Regions from separate parts of the Homo sapiens genome. Here region 2 is linked to region 1. The links come from fine-mapping of genetic effects on gene expression. A gene starts in region 1. The other region holds a variant in brackets. All regions are shown on one strand. Distances are between the middles of the regions.

Region 1 (8,726 bases):
GTATGAATCTTGACGGTTTCTGCCCGTCCTAATGGCAGAGCTCTCTGACTTGGGTGTATGCTGCCAGGCTGGGTACTTTCATACTTTGTTTTCTTGTTTTGCTTTAAAACTACGACTCAGCATACATTTTCCCACATACATTTTTACATTGTACCTTAGGACTCAGTCATCTCCACTTAAATTGATGACACAAGCAGCTAATAACCATTTCTGGGTTTCTGCCTAACCCCCTAATTGTCTGTTAAAGCCAATTCTCTGGGTGTCCCAGTGAGTGGTGGCTTTTTTTCTTTCCACATTGGCACATTCACTTCTCCCACTCTTGGCATGTAAGAAATAAGCATTTACATAATTGGAAAAATCTGGATTTCTGATGCCAAAGGGTTAAAGCTTCTTGGATTTCATTTCATTGATATACAGCCACTATTTTATTTTTGATCAGTGGCCTTTGGGCCACTGTTCAGGGTACTGACCATCAGTGTCAGCATTAGGGTTTTGGTTTTTGTTTCTTTTGGGTCTTTCTTTTTTGGCACATGTGAATCTTGTTTTGTGTAAAATGAAATTACTTTCTCTTGTTCTCTGATGATGGGTTTAAAATTAAAAGAGCATCCGGTTTTGGTATGGGGATGATCCAGGATTATGTTGTGACTGATACATATTAGTTACTTGTGCTTTTTTTTTTTTTTTTGGATCTTTGCAAGGGCAAAACTACAAGTAACGAGTTTTATATAATTAATTTAAATTTGTTACAGGTTTTCATGTTCAGGATAAACCATACTTCCACCTTGGGTGAGAACACTTGCAACAGTTTATTAATGAGGTGACTTTCACCTTAGGACAACTGTTGCATGCCAAGTTTTTTGTGTGTGTGAAACACTTCAAAACTGATTTAAAAGATGTAAATTTAAAATTGGTTGTATCTAATATGCCCCAGGTTCGGTAAATAAACAATTCTTTTTAAAAACAGTATTCTGTGTTTTATATATTGACAGCTAATCCACATTTTTTACACACCAACTTTCTGTTCTTATTTGACATGAGACATGTTCATGTTTTCTGAGTATTTATACCTATTACGTCTGTTACTTTTTAATTCTATAAACTTGAGGATAGTGAATGGTACCAAGTTTTAGTTTCTGCGTAGGTTTTCCAGTGTGGCTTCTCTGATGGATCAGTGCTAAAATCTTAAGTATTTTTCTATTTGGGAAAAAAGGGTTGAATTATTTTCACTTGCCCACGTAGTTTATGAATGTGGGAAATAGCTTCAAAGACAGATTAAATGATTTGCCCAAGGCCACAGAAAAGAGTGAAAGGTGGAACCGGAGACTAGATCACCACCTGTAGAAACTGTTCTTCCTCTGTGAAACTAACGGCCTGCTGGTAATAAAAGTAGCTACCATTTCTTGAGTACTGTGTAATGTCTCGATCTAGTACTAAGCACTTTACTTGGTCTGTCTTATTCATGCTTCAAAACTGCCATTACCTTGGGTAAAACCATTTTGGAAGTGAGGAGGAAAACAGGCTTGGAAAGGGTCTTAAGGTCAGAAAACTAGTAGGTAGTAGAGCCCAGAAGACACACACAGATATGTAATTTCCCTGTGCCTTTGCTTTCAGAACTGTCTGTGAAGTCTCCCACCTTTTCTTTTTTTGGAGACAGGATCTCACTCTGTTCCCAGGTTGGCTTGATCTCTGCTCACTGAAGCCTCAACCTCCCGGGCTCAAGTGATCCTACCACCTCAGCTCTCCAAGTAGCTGGGACTACATTTTTTGTTTTTTAAAGACAGGGTCTTGCTTTGTTACCTGGACTGGAGTGCAGTGGCACAAACATGGCTCACTGGAGCCTTAACCTCTCAAGTGATCCTCTCATCTCAGCCTCCCGAGTAGCTGGGACCACAGGCATGCACCACCACGCCTAGCTAATTAAAAAATTATTTTTGTAGAGGCAGAGTCTCCTGTATGTTGCCCAGGCTGGCCTCATTCTCCTGGGCTCAAGTGATCCTCCTGCCTCAGCCTCCCAAAGTGTTGGGATTGCAGACATGAGCCACCGTGCCTAGCCGAAGTCCCATTTTATAAAAGTTGTCAAAGGTGTTTTGAGAATGTGATGATCATTTCACTGAAAATGTGGCTTCAGGCTGTTGTCTTTTACTTAATTTGAGATGACTGCAGTCTGCATGAGTTGTATTCCCATTTATCAATCCCACAAATATTTGAGTGATTGCTGTGTGCTACAGTGATAGTCCTTGGGATAAAGAAGATAGAGAAAAGACCCTATTAGTGTGGGTTTTACATTTTGGTGGCAGAGATGAACCTAATAAGTTTTGTGTGTGTGTGTGTGTGTTTGTGTGTGTGTGGCGAGAAAGAGATAATGGTAAATGCTAAGAAGGGAACATAAATCAAGGTAGGAGTTTCAGTGATACAGAAAGGAAGGTAACAGAAGTTGATTTCAAAAGTCCAAGTGGAATGTAAGGGAGTGTAAGGGAAAACTTCCCCTTTGCTCTCAGGTTTCTCTAAAAATTCAACTGAAAATAGGCAGATTAATAGGAGGAAAGTGATACAAATTTATTCGGTCATGCTTTTACATGACAAAGGAACCTTCAGAATTAAGACCCAAAGTTACAGGGAAAACTATTTTTATGCTTAGGCTCAACAAAATATGCACAGCTGAGTAGAAATAGGACTGGACAAGAAGGGCATGATCTAATGCTCATAGACTGAGTGGGGAAGCCCAGCGAGGCCTGTCTGGATTCTTTCCTTCTGGATAGGGGAAAGAACCCTTCCTGGAATGGGGTCTTACAACCTACCAGCAAAACAAAGGAGGTCAGATACATTTTTTTTTTTTTTGGAGACAGTCTCTCTCTGTCACCCAGGGTGGAGTGCGGTGGCGCGATCTTGGCTCACTGCAGCCTCCGCCTCCCGGGTTCAAGCAATTCTCCTGCCTCAGCCTCCCAAGTAGCTGGGAATACAGGCGCACGCTGCCACATCTGGCTAATTTTTTTTTGTATTTTTAGTAGAGACGGGATTTCACCGTCTGGTCTCGAACTCCTGAGCTCAGGCAATCTGCCCGCCTTGGCCTCCAAAAGTGCTAGGATTACAGGTGTGAGCCACCACGTCTGGCCTTTTTTTGTTTGTTTGTTTGTTTGTTTGTTTGTTTTTTGAGACTGAGTCTCACTCTGTCGCCCAGGCTGGAATGCAATGGTGCGATCTAGGATTACTGCAGCCTCCACTTCTCAGGTTCAAGCGATGCTTGTAGCTCAGCCTCCGGAGTAGCTGCAGGCACCTGCCACCACACCTGGCTAATTTTTTGTATTTTTAGTAGACAGGGTTTCACTACGTTGGCCAGGCTGGTCTCAAACTCCTTACCTTAGGTGATCCGCCTGCCTCAGCCTCCCAAAGTGCTGGGATTACAGGCATGAGCCACCGCACCTAGCCCAGATAATTTCTTTTTCTTTTTTTTTTTGAGACTGAGTCTCGCTTTGTCACCCACGCTGGAGTGCAGTGGCGCAACCTCCACCTCCCTGGTTCAAGCGATTCTTCTGCCTCAGGCTCCTGAGTAGCTGGGACTACAGGCATGCGCCACCACGCCTGGCTAATTTCTGTATTTTTAGTAGAGACGGGGTTTCACCATATTGGCCAGGCTGGTCTCGAACTCCTGACCTTGAGATCTGCCCGCTTTGGCCTCCCAAAGTGGTGAGATTACAGGCGTGAGCCACCGTGCCAGGCCAATAATTTCTTTATGGCCAGTTTTTTCACAGAAAGGTGGAGAGAGAGTAATATTTTTAGGTTTTATGGCTGACTGTGGAGAAAAGGGATTCCTGTTTCTATGCTCCGTCATGGGCAAGAGGGATTCTTGAGTTTCTATGGCTAGCCTCAGAGAATCAGAGATCAGAGAGGGAGCAGAAGGTCAGAGAGAAACTTGCTTCTGAGGCTGCCTCTGGGGCCTTCATTTTGGGGTTTCGTTTTCAGAGCCTCAACAGGAGCAAGCCATGCACATAGGTGGAGGAGATAGGCCCTCATAGAGGGCACATAATGAGTGGTCAATAAAAGTTTGCTGAGTGAAGGCCGGGCGCGGTGGCTCACGCCTGTAATCCCAGCACTTTGGGAGGCCGAGGCGGGCGGATCACGAGGTCAGGAAATCGAGACCATCCTGGCTAACACGGTGAAACCCCGTCTCTACTAAAAATACAAAAAATTAGCCGGGCGTGGTGGAGGGCGCCTGCAGTCCCAGGTACTCGGGAGGCTGAGGCAGGAGAAGGGCGTGAACCCGGGAGGCGGAGCTTGCAGTGAACCGTTATAGCGCCCAGCCTCCAGCCTGGGCAACAGAGCGAGACTCCGTCTCAAACAACAACAACAACAACAACAACAACAAAAACAGCTTTCTGAGTGAAGTTGTATGTGGACATGAATGGCCCAGGCAAACAGTGAACAGAGGAATGGGACAGTGTTCTTAGTTAGGACTCTGACCCTAACTTCCGGGAAAGTAAACCAACATTCAGGACGTACCGGCCATCGGACCGCAACATTCAGGACGTACCGGCCATCAGCGGGTGCCTGTTTTGCAGGGCTGCTAACCCGGGTCCCCGACACGTTTCTCTGCCCACGGTAGCCAGCCCCGCTGTCCTTCGGCCTGGACGCGGTCCTGTGCTGCCACCTGCCTCCGAGGGGCAGAGAAAGTGGGAGGGCCGGGCCAGAATCCCTCCCGCCAAAACTCCTGCCCGGTGCGGAGAGGCGCCCGGAGCCCAGGGCGCTGTGCGGAGCGGGTGTAACTCCCCAGGCCTGCCCCGCCGCCTGCCTCCACCGTCCCGCGGACGCCTTTCCTCCCTCCCGCGGCGTGGGAGCCTTCGCCGCGCTCCGGAACTCTGCTGCTCCAGCGAAGTTCCCGGCCGGCCGCTGGAGCTGCGGGAAGCGGAAGTGCTCGTTGGGGGTGCACAAGGCGCGTTCGAGCAGCGGCGACCGACGCGGCGAAGGAGCGCGCCATGGAGCATGTGACAGAGGGCTCCTGGGAGTCGCTGCCTGTGCCGCTGCACCCGCAGGTGCTGGGCGCGCTGCGGGAGCTGGGCTTCCCGTACATGACGCCGGTGCAGGTATCGGTTCCCTGGCGTGGGGGAGTGAGGCTGGGAGAGGGGCAGGCACCCGCTGCATCGGACCCACAGGAGGTGATCGGACAGATCTGAGCCCTGGGGCGCTCATCCCTCCAGCTGGGGCTCTTGCCTTGTCTCCAGCTGCCCAGACTGGCGGAATGCGGAGCTGCCCGGCCAGCGAGCCGGCAGAGGGGCCGCGACCCACCCCGCCCTCGGGTGCTGTGGTCTCAAGCCTGGTTCTCATCCTGGCCCTGCTCGCTGTAGCTGTGAGACCTCGGGCAAATGGCTTAACCTCTCCGTGCTTCATTTTCCTTCTCTGTGAAATGACGAAAAAATAACACCCTCCTTATGGGGTTGCTGTGGGGACTAAATAAACCAGTCGGCACACTATGGGAGCTCAGTAAGGGTTACCGTTGTTATGCATCTCTTCAAGAATATTTCTTGAGGACCTGCTATGTGTCAGGAACTCTTCTAGGCTCTGGGGAGTTTGCAGTATTGGCATCTGCTCATAGCCTTACTTTCTAGTGCAAGAGCTAGAGAAAGGATAATTTCAGCTGCTGGTAAGTGTTATGAAAGAACTAAGACGGTTGTGATAGTGTCGCGCGAGGACTGCAGAGGAGGTGAGATAGGGTGTTAAGGAAGGCCTCTCTGAGGAGGTGCATTGAGCTGAGACCTCAGTGATTGAGAAGGAGCTGGCTCTGAGGTGACTAGGGGGAGATTATTCCACTGGAGAGAAATACCAGTGCACATAAATGCCCTGCGGCAGGCTGCAAATAGTTTGAGCAGCAGAAAGGAGGCCTTTGTGGCTGAACATCAAGAGTAGTGTAAGAGATGGATTGTGCAGGGTCTTGTAGGCGCTTGGATTTCATTCTAAATGTAGTGGGAAGCCATCTTATCTGGGAGGATGTTTAGGAAGGGAAGGGCTGTGATTTCTCTGTAGAGAGTGGCCTTTCCAGGCATAAGAGATGAAGCAGGCAGGTCGCTTAGGAGGCCATTGTCAGGTAAGAGATGATGGTGACTTGGAGTAGGGTGGAACCAGTGGATACTGAGAAGTCACATTTGGGATAGCTTTAAGGTTGCTAAGGGACTGGAAGTGGAGGTTAGGAAAGAAAAGACTACAGGACCTGAGGTTTTTATTCTTTTTTTTTTTTTTTTTGAGATGGAGTCTCGCTCTGTTGCCCAGGCTGGAGTGCAGTGGCGCGATCTCGGCTCACTGCAACCTCCGCCTCCTGGGTTCAAGCAATTCTCTGCCTGAACCTCCCAAGTAGCTGAGATCACAGGTGCCTGCCACCATGCCCGGCTAATTTTTTGTATTTTTAGTAGATACGGGGTTTCACCATCTCGGCCAGGTTGGTCTTGAACTCCTGACCTCCTGATCCACCCGCCTTGGCCTCCCAAAGTGCTGGGATTACAGGCTGAGCTACCGCACCCGGCTGATTTTTATTAGTAGCTGAGTGAATGGTGTTACCATTTCCCAAGAATGACTGGCGTGCGTATCAGGTTTCAGAGGGAAAGTCAAGAGTTCTTTTTTTTGTTTTTTGTTTGTTTGTTTGTTTTTAACTTTTTTGAGACGGAATCTTTCTCTGTTGCCCAGGTTGGAGTGCAATGACACGATCTCGGCTCACTGCAACTTCTGCCTCCCGGGTTCAAGCTATTCTCCCATCTCAGCCTTCCAAGTAGCTGGGGTTACAGGCATACACCACCACGCCTGGCTAATTTTTGTGTTTTTAGTAGAGACGGGATTTCGCCATGTTGGCCAGACTGGTCTTGAACTCCTGACCTCAGGTACGCCCGCCTTGGCCTCCCAAAGTGCTGGGATTACAGGAGTGAGCCACTGCGCCTGACCACAAGAGTCCTGTTTTTAAACACTGAGCTGGGTACAGTGGCACCCGCCTGTAGTACCATTTGTTTGGAAGGCTGAGGTGGGAGGATCCCTTGAGCCCAGGAGTTCAAGACCAGCCTGAGCAACATAGTGAGACCCGCATCTTCGAAATTAAAATAAATAATGGCCGGGCACGGTGGCTCACGCCTGTAATCCTAGCACTTTTGGAGACCAAGGTGGGAGGATCACTTGAGATCAGGAGTTCAAGACCAGCCTGGGCAACATAGGGAGGCCCTGTCATCACAAAAATTTTTTTTAAATAAATGAAGTCTTGAGTTTGAGATGCCCATAAGATTCCCGGGAATGTGGAGAATGTATTTCCAGCAGGCAGGGCTGGAGATGAAAACTGGGAGTGCTATGTGCCCTGCCTAGGGAATGTAGTGCGAGCAAGACCCAATCTCTGGCCTCAGAGCTCATTGTCTAGACCTGTCATCCACTACACAGTCATCAGACATGGCTATCAAGTGCTTGAAATACACTTTGTCCAAATCAAAGTGTACTCTGAGTATCAAATAACACACTAGATTTTGAAGACCTAGTATGAAAAAAGAATGGAAAATGCTGATTTTTAAATATTGACTAAATGTGAAGGGACAATATTTTTGATATATTGGGTTAAATAAAATATTAAAATTTATTTCACCCATTTCTTTTTACTTTTCTTACTATGGCTATTAGAAAATTTAAAATTGTTTATGTGGTTCACATTTTATTTCTATTGGACAGCAATGGCCTGAAGCAGGGTCCTCACTGTTGGCACTATTGACATTTTGTGCTGGAAAATTTTTTGTTATGGGGCTGTCCTGGGCATTGTAGGATGTTTAACAACATCACTGGAATCTGTCCATCAGAGGACATCACCTCCCAACCCTGGTTGTATTTTATTTATTTATTTATTTATTGAGGCAGGGTTTTGCTCTGTTACCCGGGCTGGAGTGCAGTGGCACAGTCACAGCTCACAGTAGCCTCGACCTCCCTGGGCCTAGGTGATCCTCTTACCTTAGCCTCCTGAGTAGCTGGGACTGCAGGCATGCACCACCACACCCACATAATTAAAAAAATTTTCTTTGTAGAGACAGAGTCTCCCTGTGTTGCCTGGCTGGTCTGGAATTCCTGGCCTTAAGGGATCTACCCACCTGGGCCTCCCAAAGTGCTGTGATTATAGATGTGAGCCACCACGCCTGGCCCACCCTGGGTTTTGACAACCAAAAATGTCTCCTTACATTGTCAAATGTTCCCTCAGGGGTTGAGCAGGGGGATAGCAATCACTGTGTAGAGGCAGTTAGAATAATATTACACCTGCTGTGATTTAAGTGAGCTCAGGCCCTGGGGACCAGGGCTGAATCCTGGAGGGAGCAGCCTCCAGGCCAAGGCCTGAATCTAATTGAGGTTTTTTTTGATTGCTAAAACCAGGTTTCTTTTAAAGTCTGGCAACCTCTACAGTGCTTAAAATGAGAGGGTTTATTTGAATCATGATTCTGTGATACTAGAGCTGGAAGGGACCCTAAAACCCAATGTCTTCAACGCCTTCCTGGTTCAGAGAGGAAAGTAGGAGCGACAGGGCTAGAATTCAGGACTCCCACCTCCCAGCTCAGCTCACTGTCCCCACACGCCGTCCACATAGACACAGTTGCCACGTTTGATTCAACTTCTCTATGGTGACTTGGTTACTCAGAGCCCCTTTTGTGGTGGGACCCACTGTGACCTTAGCTGCCCATTATGTTCCTAGGGCTTCGGGTCTCACCTGTGAATTGATGGCATCCTTTAAC
Region 2 (8,000 bases), 120 kb after region 1:
CCCCAACAAGTAATAATAAACATTTGTTTGTCCATTTACTTGTTTATTGTTTGTCTCCACCAAGGACTGTCAACCTCTGAGAGTAAGTACCTTAACGCAGTCCTTGGCAGTCATTGGCATCGATAGGCATTTGTTGAATGAACAGACAAGCTTTTCTTGACTGCCCGCTATGTTCAGGCACTGTTTTTGGTGCTGGAGACTCGGTGGTGAGCAAGGCAGACACAGTCCCTGTGTTCCTGGAGCTTCCAGTGTGGGAGGAGACAGATTAAACACACTCTGATTATGAGCTGTGATAAGTGCTAAGAAGGCAAAGAACAGGGTGTGGAAGGGAGACCGTGAAGCAAGTACTTACTGACTGAATTGAAATCCACTCAGGCGAACATTTTATTTCCTGGCCACCACTTTCATCTCCTGACTGTTTCCCTTAATCTTCCTAAGGTGTCCTTAATTTCAAAAGGGATCAGCCCTACCCGAGATCTGATATCCATTGATATCAGATATCTAATACCAGATCAGCCCCATAAGGCAGTTGCAAAGTCATGGAGAGACTCCTGAGTGACAGGCGAGGGTGCAGGTAAGATGCAGGGCGGTTCCTGGTTCCTGGAGCCACTTCTGCAGTTGTACCCATTCACCTGATGGATGCTGCGCTGAGCTGTGAATAGCACCCAAAACATTCAGGCAACAGCTGCAGGTGCAGCAGGCTCCTACATTTGTAACAGGTAGATGTTTTCCTTCCGGTTAGTACTCAAGCCAAGACACTTATCACACTTCAGTCTTACAGGTTTGAGCAAACGTACTAATCACTATGAAGGTTCCAGTTTCAATAAGCGCCACTACCTCCAGTCATAGAGTGTACCTGGGATCCTTTTCAACTGAATGTCAGTGAAAGGAGAAGAAAGTGCTGTTCATCTTTTTCCAGAAGGAAGTAAAACTAAGGTTGCTGCGATGAGCTCTTGTGTGGTGCTAGGTTTTCAGTGTGTCTTCAGCCTGAGTTTCCTACTGACTTTGTGGTGACCAGATGGGATCACTGTTAGTAACCCTTGCAAGGGAAAGGGGGGCAGGTGGTGACTTCCGTGGTGACAGCTAGTGGGAAGTACCTGGAAAAGAAAGGTCATTCAGCTGATGGGGAGGACTCCCTGAAGGGAAAGTTCGCACTTTTGTTACAGTTCTCAGTCTAAGAACAGGTTTCCTCTTTAGTCCTTCAGCTGAAGTGGGAGTATCAATGGCTGTGAATATCAAAACAAACAGCACCAGATCTCCTCTGCCGGTTTTACTAGGTTAAATGTGCCTTGAATTGAATCTACATTAAAATGTACCTTATTCCATTAGCCTTGAATTAGGGTGCTGCCCTAAAAGGGAAAAAAAACCCAAAATTTATAAAAGAAACCACACAATAGAAAAAAAAAGTTAATATGTCTGGGCACGGTGGTTCACGTCTGTAATCCCAGCACTTTCGGAGGCCAAGGCGGGCAGATCACAAGGCCAAGAGTTCGAGACCATCCTGGCCAACATGGTGAAACCCTGTCTCTACTAAAAATACAAAAATTAGCTGGGCATGGCGGGGTGTGCCTGTAGTCCTAGCTACTCTCAGAAGGCTGAGGCAGGAGAATCACTTGAACCCAGGAGGCAGAGGTTGCAGTGAGCTGAGATCGCGCCACTGCACTCCAGCCTGGCAACAGAGCGAGACTCCGTCTCAAAAAAAAGTTAATATATGTAAGCTGGTGATGGTGGTGTATGTATGTGAAATCCATGTTTGTATTATTGCCACAGAAATTTACCTCTTTATAAATAAAGATTCTACTATTTGTAGAAACATCATGCCCATTTAGAGTTAAGTACTATTTGATATTGAAGGAAGAAAATGAAAGCTGAGAAGTAGTATCCTGTGACAGCTTTAGACACAGAACTTCCTTTCCAACAAGTTCCATAGAACTAGATTGTGTCTGAATCATTAGTAACTTGGAAGTGGTTACTTTTAGTTCGACCTCCAGAAATGAATGAGAAGGTGACAAACAGAAGTGAAATGAGAATTTTTACCTTTTTTCTGGTTCTTTTAAAAAAAAAGTCCCCAAAAAATGAACAAGAACTGAGTCAGACACTGAGTAGACACTTACCAGGTTGAGCAGTTTCATGTCAAGTTGTATCTTAACTGTTTCTTGAGAGTGCCCAGTACAAATCCTGGATGGAATAAAGATAAATTTCGTGTCTTAAATGGCTTTCAACATGAATGATATACTGTAAATTGTTGAAGTATGAAAGTGATAGATGACCATTGTGAGAAATGTGGAAAACATAAGAATAGTAACATACCTTGCATGATCCCAACGCCTAGAAATTAACTTTAACTTTTTGGCTAATACTGGACAATCAGCATTTCTCTAATAATGTTTAAAAATGTCCATATATATGTATTTTTATATAATTTGAACCACACTGAAAACATCCTAATCTGCTTTACACAGAAATCATGACTAACTTCCTAATTTTATTAAATATTCTTTTACAACTTTTTAAAATTGTTTTAAACTTTATATTATAAGTAGAGGGAAGAGTACAGTGTACCCCCATGTACCCATAAATGTAAACTTAGTTTTTTCTCACTTCCCAGACTAGATCATTTTGAAGCAAATCCAAGATATATAATTTAACTTTTCAACAAGTACCTCTAAAAGATGAATTTTTTTTCTTTTTTTTTTTTGAGATGGAGTCTCAATTCTGTCGCCCAGGATGGAGTGCAGTGGCGCGATCTCAGCTCATTGCAACCTCTGCCTCCCAGGTTCAAGTGATTCTCATGCCTCAGCCTCCTGAGCAGCTGAGATCACAGGCGCGCGCCACCACGCCTGGCTAATTTTTGTATTTTTAGTAGAGACGGGGTTTCACCATGTTGGCCAGGCTGGTCTCCAACTCCTGACCTCAAGTCATCCCCCCACCTTGGCCCCCCAGAGTGCTGGGATTACAAGCATGAGCCACCAGGCCTGGCCTAGAAGATAAAAAATTATTACCAACATTGTACCTGAAAATTTAAATAACATTTCTTAATATAATCAAATACCTGGTCATTTTTACACAACTTTATTGAGGTGTATGGTAGAGTTTACCCATGATTTTTAGAAAGTTTATGGAGGCCGGGTGCAGTGGCTCACACCTGTAATCCCGGCACTTTGGGAGGCTGAGGCAGCCACATCACTTGAGCCCACCAGTTTGAGACCAGCCTGAACAACATGGCGAAACCCCATCTCTACCCAAAATACAAAAATTAGCCGGGTGTGGTGGCACGTGCCTTTAATCCCAGCTACTCAGGAGGCTGAGGCAGGAGGATCGCTTGAACCTGGGAGGCAGAGGTTGCAGTGAGCTGAGATTGCGCCACTGGACTTCAGCCTAGGCGACAGTGAGATCCTGTCTCAAAAAAAAAAAAAAAGAGTTTATAGAGTCATGCATCCATTGCCACAATTGTTTTAGAACATTCCATCACCCCAGAAGATTCTTAATGCTCATTTACAGTTAATCCTTATTCCTACCCCCACCCCCCCAGCACCCACTAATCTGCTTGCTGCCTCTAGGGTTGTCTGGACATTCCATGTAAGTGGAATC[G/A]CACAGTATGTGGCTTCTTGTGTCTGGCTGCTTTCACTTAGTATGAAAGTCATCCAGGGTGGGCGTGGTGGCTCACGCCTGTAATCCTAGCATTTTGGGAGGCCGAGGTGGGCGAATCATCTGAGGTCAGGAGTTTGAGACCAGCCTGGCCAACATGGTGAAACCCCATCTCTACTAAAAATACAAAAATTAGCCGGGGGTGGTGGCACTTGGCTGTAATCCCAGCTACTCGGGAGGCTGAGGCAGGAGAATCGCTTGAACCTGGAAGGCGAAGGTTGCAGTGAGCCAAGATACTGCCAGTACGTTCCAGCCTGGGCAACAGAGCGAAACTCTGTCTCAAAAAAAAAAAAAAAAAAAAAAGAGAAAGTCATCCCTGTTGTTGCATGGGTCAGTAGTTCATTCCTTTTTATTGCTAAGTAGCATTCCATTGTGTGGATATAGACTGTAATTTCTTTTCTTTTCTTTCTTTCTTTTTTTTTTTTTTTTGAGACAGGCTCTTGCTTTGTCACCCAGGCTAGAGTGCAGTGGTGTGATCACTGCTCACTGCAATCTCGATCTCCTGGGCTCAAGCAATCCTCCTGCCACAGCCTTCTGAGCAACTGGGACCACAGGCGTGCACCACCAGGCCTGGCTAATTTTTTATTTTTTGGAGAGATGGTGTCTTACCATGTTGCCCAGGCTGGCCTCAAACTACTGGCCTCAGGTAGTCCTCCCACCTCAGCCTCCCAAATTGCTGGGATTATCAACACGAGCTGCTGTGCCTGGCTATAATTTCTTTAACTACGCTACTGTAATTTCTTGAACTAGTTTTCTATTGTTGGATTTTTGGGTTATCATTTTTTCTTTTTCCCTGAGATTGATGTTGTCATAGATTTTCATCTGTTTCCATAGCTTTTTCCTTAGGTTAAATTTTCTTCATGGGGTATTGCTGGGCAAATAATCATTTTCAGGATTTTTTCTTTTTTTGACCCAGGGTCTCACTGTGTCACCTGGGCTGGATTGCAGTGGTGTGATCTCAGCTCCATCCAACCTCTGCCTCTCGGGCTCAAGCAATTCTCGTGCCTCAGCCTTCCAAGTAGCTGGAATTACTTAGGTGCGCCACCATGCCTGGCTAATTTTTTTTTTTTTTTTGAGATAGTGTCTTGCCCTGTTGCCCAGGTTGGAGTGCAAATGGCACGATCTTGGCTCACTGCAACCTCCGCCTCCTGGGTTCAAGCAATTTTTCCACCTCAGCCTCCCGAGTAGCTGGGATTACAGGTACTTGCCATCATGCTTGGCTAATTTTTGTGTTTTCGTAGAGGTGGGATTTCACCATGTTGGCCAGGCTGGTCTTGAACTCCCGACCTCAAGTGATCTGCCCGCCTCATCCTCCCAAAGTGCTGGGATTACAGGCGTGAGCTACCGCCCCGGCCTAATTTTTGTATTTTTAGCAGGGTTGGGGTTTCACCGTGTTGGCCCGGCTGGATTTTCAGGCTTTTTTGGTAACAGTTGACAAATTGCTCTCAAGAAAAGTTGTGTCAGTTTATAGTTTCATTCAATAGTATACAAGAGTGTACATCCCCCAAACTTTGGTGATGTTTTATTTTTTACATAAAAGTATTTTTAAATTTTAGAAATTTAAACCATATTTTTCATCCTTTTCTCAGCTCAACCAGAACGTAAGTTCTTTCCAAAGAAAATTTGTTGGTGAGGTGAAGAGGTGTGAAGAGCTAGAGCGAATATTGGGTAAGTTTATTTTCTGATTTAACAACTTAAATAATTACCTTTATATAGGCAAACCTTGTTCGGTTTAAAAATATTGGAAAATATAGACAAGCAGAAAGGAAAAAAAGAAATTGTATTCTCATTCAGAAGTAATCACAGTTATGTAGGCATGTATTATTTTTCTGTATTTTTTTATTCATCTATAAAAGTAAAAATTTACAAACATAATGGCCTGGTTATTTTGTTGTTACCCTTGTTTTTTACTTAACAGTGCTTACTATAACATCTTTTCGTGTCAGTAGACATAGATATTTACCCATCATCGTTTTTGATGGCAGCATACTATTTGATTGTATTAATATTAATGTGCTGTGGCTTATTTAACCGATCCCTTGTAGTTTATTATAACTTAAAAACATTGTACTTGTTAATAAGTTACTTAATTTAAAATTTTTTCAAGGAACAAGGGAGGCGGGAAATGGAAGATAGAGTGATTGACAATAATTTCCTTTTTCTCAGGGCTTCCTTTGCCAGTGTGTTAGATCAGTGCTGATTGTTAACCATTTCAACTAAGCAGCCCAGGGCCACTTCTTTTATCTCTAAAGTCTTTACCATCTTAGTCTGGTACTAGTCATTATCAAATCAAGCCTTGACATTCTCACTGAAGTGGAGGGAAAATGACAGACAGTCAACTGAAGGACAAAGCTTGTTTTTTTTTTTTTTTGAGATGGAGTCTTGCTTTGTCACCTAGGCTGGAGTGCAGTGGCATGATCTTGGCTCACTGCAGACTCCGCCTCCTGGGTTCCAGCGATTCTCCTGCTTCAGCCGCCCTAGTAGCTGGGACTATAGGTGCGTGCCACCACACCTGGCTAATTTTTGTACTTTTAGTAGAGATGGGGTTTTACCATGTTGGCCAGGCTGGTCTTGAACTCCTTGTTAGGGACAAACCGCCCCAAAAAAGCTTCTTGGTACTGCCAACACTTCCCCCAAAGCTCTCCGTGCTGCCTACCCCTCCCCCTGAGCCCCTTTAACATTTCTAAGCCCTTATCTAGGTGCCCCAGTGAAGCCAGCAAACTTCACTTATCAGGCCTTCCTGCGATAAGCAAAACACAATTATAAACCATCCGGACCACACAGGGGGAGGTTGTGGGAAGCCTAAACAAACTTTGCCTACGGCCTCCTGTAAGTTCCTTCATTTAGCTGCTACTGTAAAGGTCACAAGGTGATACATGGCAAAGTTAACCAACAAACGACCCCAGGGTCTCTCTCCCCCGTATAAACCCCTCATTTTGTAAGTTCAGGGCTGCCTCCTCTGTCGTGGAGCAGCCGGCAGGTTCAATAAACTTACTCACCTGACTTTGGGTCTATTCTTCCTTTCTCTCGGCTGACCTTACACTCCTGACCTCAGGTGATCCACTGGCTTCGGCCTCCCAAAGGTCTGGGATTACAGATGTGAGCCACCACACCCGGCCTATTTTTTTTAAATTGGGGATTTTTAAGTGTAACAGGAAATTTTAGTCATTTGAAATCTAGTCCTATTCATATTGCTTGAGGTCCTAGTTATTTGTGTGGTTCATGTACGTTAGTGGCACCATATTCCTGTCTTTGCAACCTGGGTGAGTCATTGGATAGATGGTGTATTCAGAATAAGGTTTTTAAAGGCAGGGCAAATGTGATAACACATTAGGTATATCCAGGACTTCCTGTAGCTTAAACTGTTTCAAAAGAATGCAGGGCTGGGCACGATGGCTCACGCCTATAATTCCAGCACTTTGGGAGGCCAAGGTGGGAGGATCACTTGAGTCCAGGAGTTTGAGAGCAGTCTGGGCAACATACTGAGACCCTGTCTCCACAAAAAATAAAATTAGCCAGGCATGGTGACATGTGCCTGTAGTCTTAGCTACTCAGGAGGCTGAGGTGGGAGAATTGCTTGAGCCCAGGAGTTTGAGGTTATTGTGGGCCAGGATGACACACCACTGTACTCCAGCCTGGGCAGCAGGGTATGACCCCATAAGAATGCAGACTTAAAACAGTGAAAAAGGACCTCTCAAGGAAATTTAGGTGTACGCCAGGCATGGTGGTGCACATACCTATAGTCTCAGTTACTCTGAAGGTAGAGGCAGGAGGCTTTCTTGAGCCCAGGAGTTCAAGGCTAGCGTGGGCAACATAGTGAGACCCCTGTCTCTTAAAAAAAAAAAGAATAAATTGAAGTATAAATTGGTTAAAACAATTTGCGTTCATTTCTAGAAACCTCTTAGACCCAGTGCTTCCTTTGCTATCTTGGTAAGACAGTTTCTTTTCTTTTTCTTTTTGTTTTTCCTCCTTACTTCTTTACCTGCCTCTCTCCCTCTGTAAACCAGTTAGTAACACTTCTAAATATTAGGCCTGATAATGACTAACAGATATTGTGACTTTTAGCCTAAGGAAAGGGATGCTTCATGGAATCGAAAACATAAACCAAATAAAGTAGTTAGTTTTGGCTGGTGTACTATTAGTTTCATGAATCTAGGTGTTTTGTTTTGTTTTGTTTTGTTTTGTTTTAATGACTGAAACAAAAAACATCTAAAACCACAGCTTCTGGAAGAACCACTTGTTCTTGCCAGTCTTGTTCCACTCTTTGAACTTGATCTTGGCCTCCCACTGGGCCTTGCATTTAAGAGCAGGGTCTCTGAAAACCTGGTGGTTTTGTCTAAGGGGATGGTCAC

What was found.
Region 2: its variant is fine-mapped to the expression of DDX55 in spinal cord (GTEx, PIP 0.90).

Annotation. Positions count from the first base shown.
Region 1 is chr12:123,597,179-123,605,904 of GRCh38, forward strand. DDX55 (DEAD-box helicase 55) reads left to right here and starts at 4,921. Exons shown (of 14, transcript NM_020936.3): 1 at 4,921-5,078. The coding sequence starts at 4,971. It overlaps TMED2 (transmembrane p24 trafficking protein 2), which reads left to right. Exons shown (of 4, transcript NM_006815.4): 4 at 1-1,404. RefSeq lists a silencer at 5,283-5,392 and an enhancer at 5,633-5,682.
Region 2 is chr12:123,713,386-123,721,385 of GRCh38, forward strand. ATP6V0A2 (ATPase H+ transporting V0 subunit a2) reads left to right here. Exons shown (of 20, transcript NM_012463.4): 2 at 5,238-5,316. LOC105370042 (a long non-coding RNA gene) reads right to left here. Exons shown (of 3, transcript XR_945477.4): 2 at 2,115-2,178; 3 at 1-1,349. It also overlaps the pseudogene RPL27P12. Among named protein-coding and RNA genes, the nearest start is that of ATP6V0A2, 5.0 kb to the left of the region's middle. The variant G/A (reference allele first, on the strand shown) is at 3,592.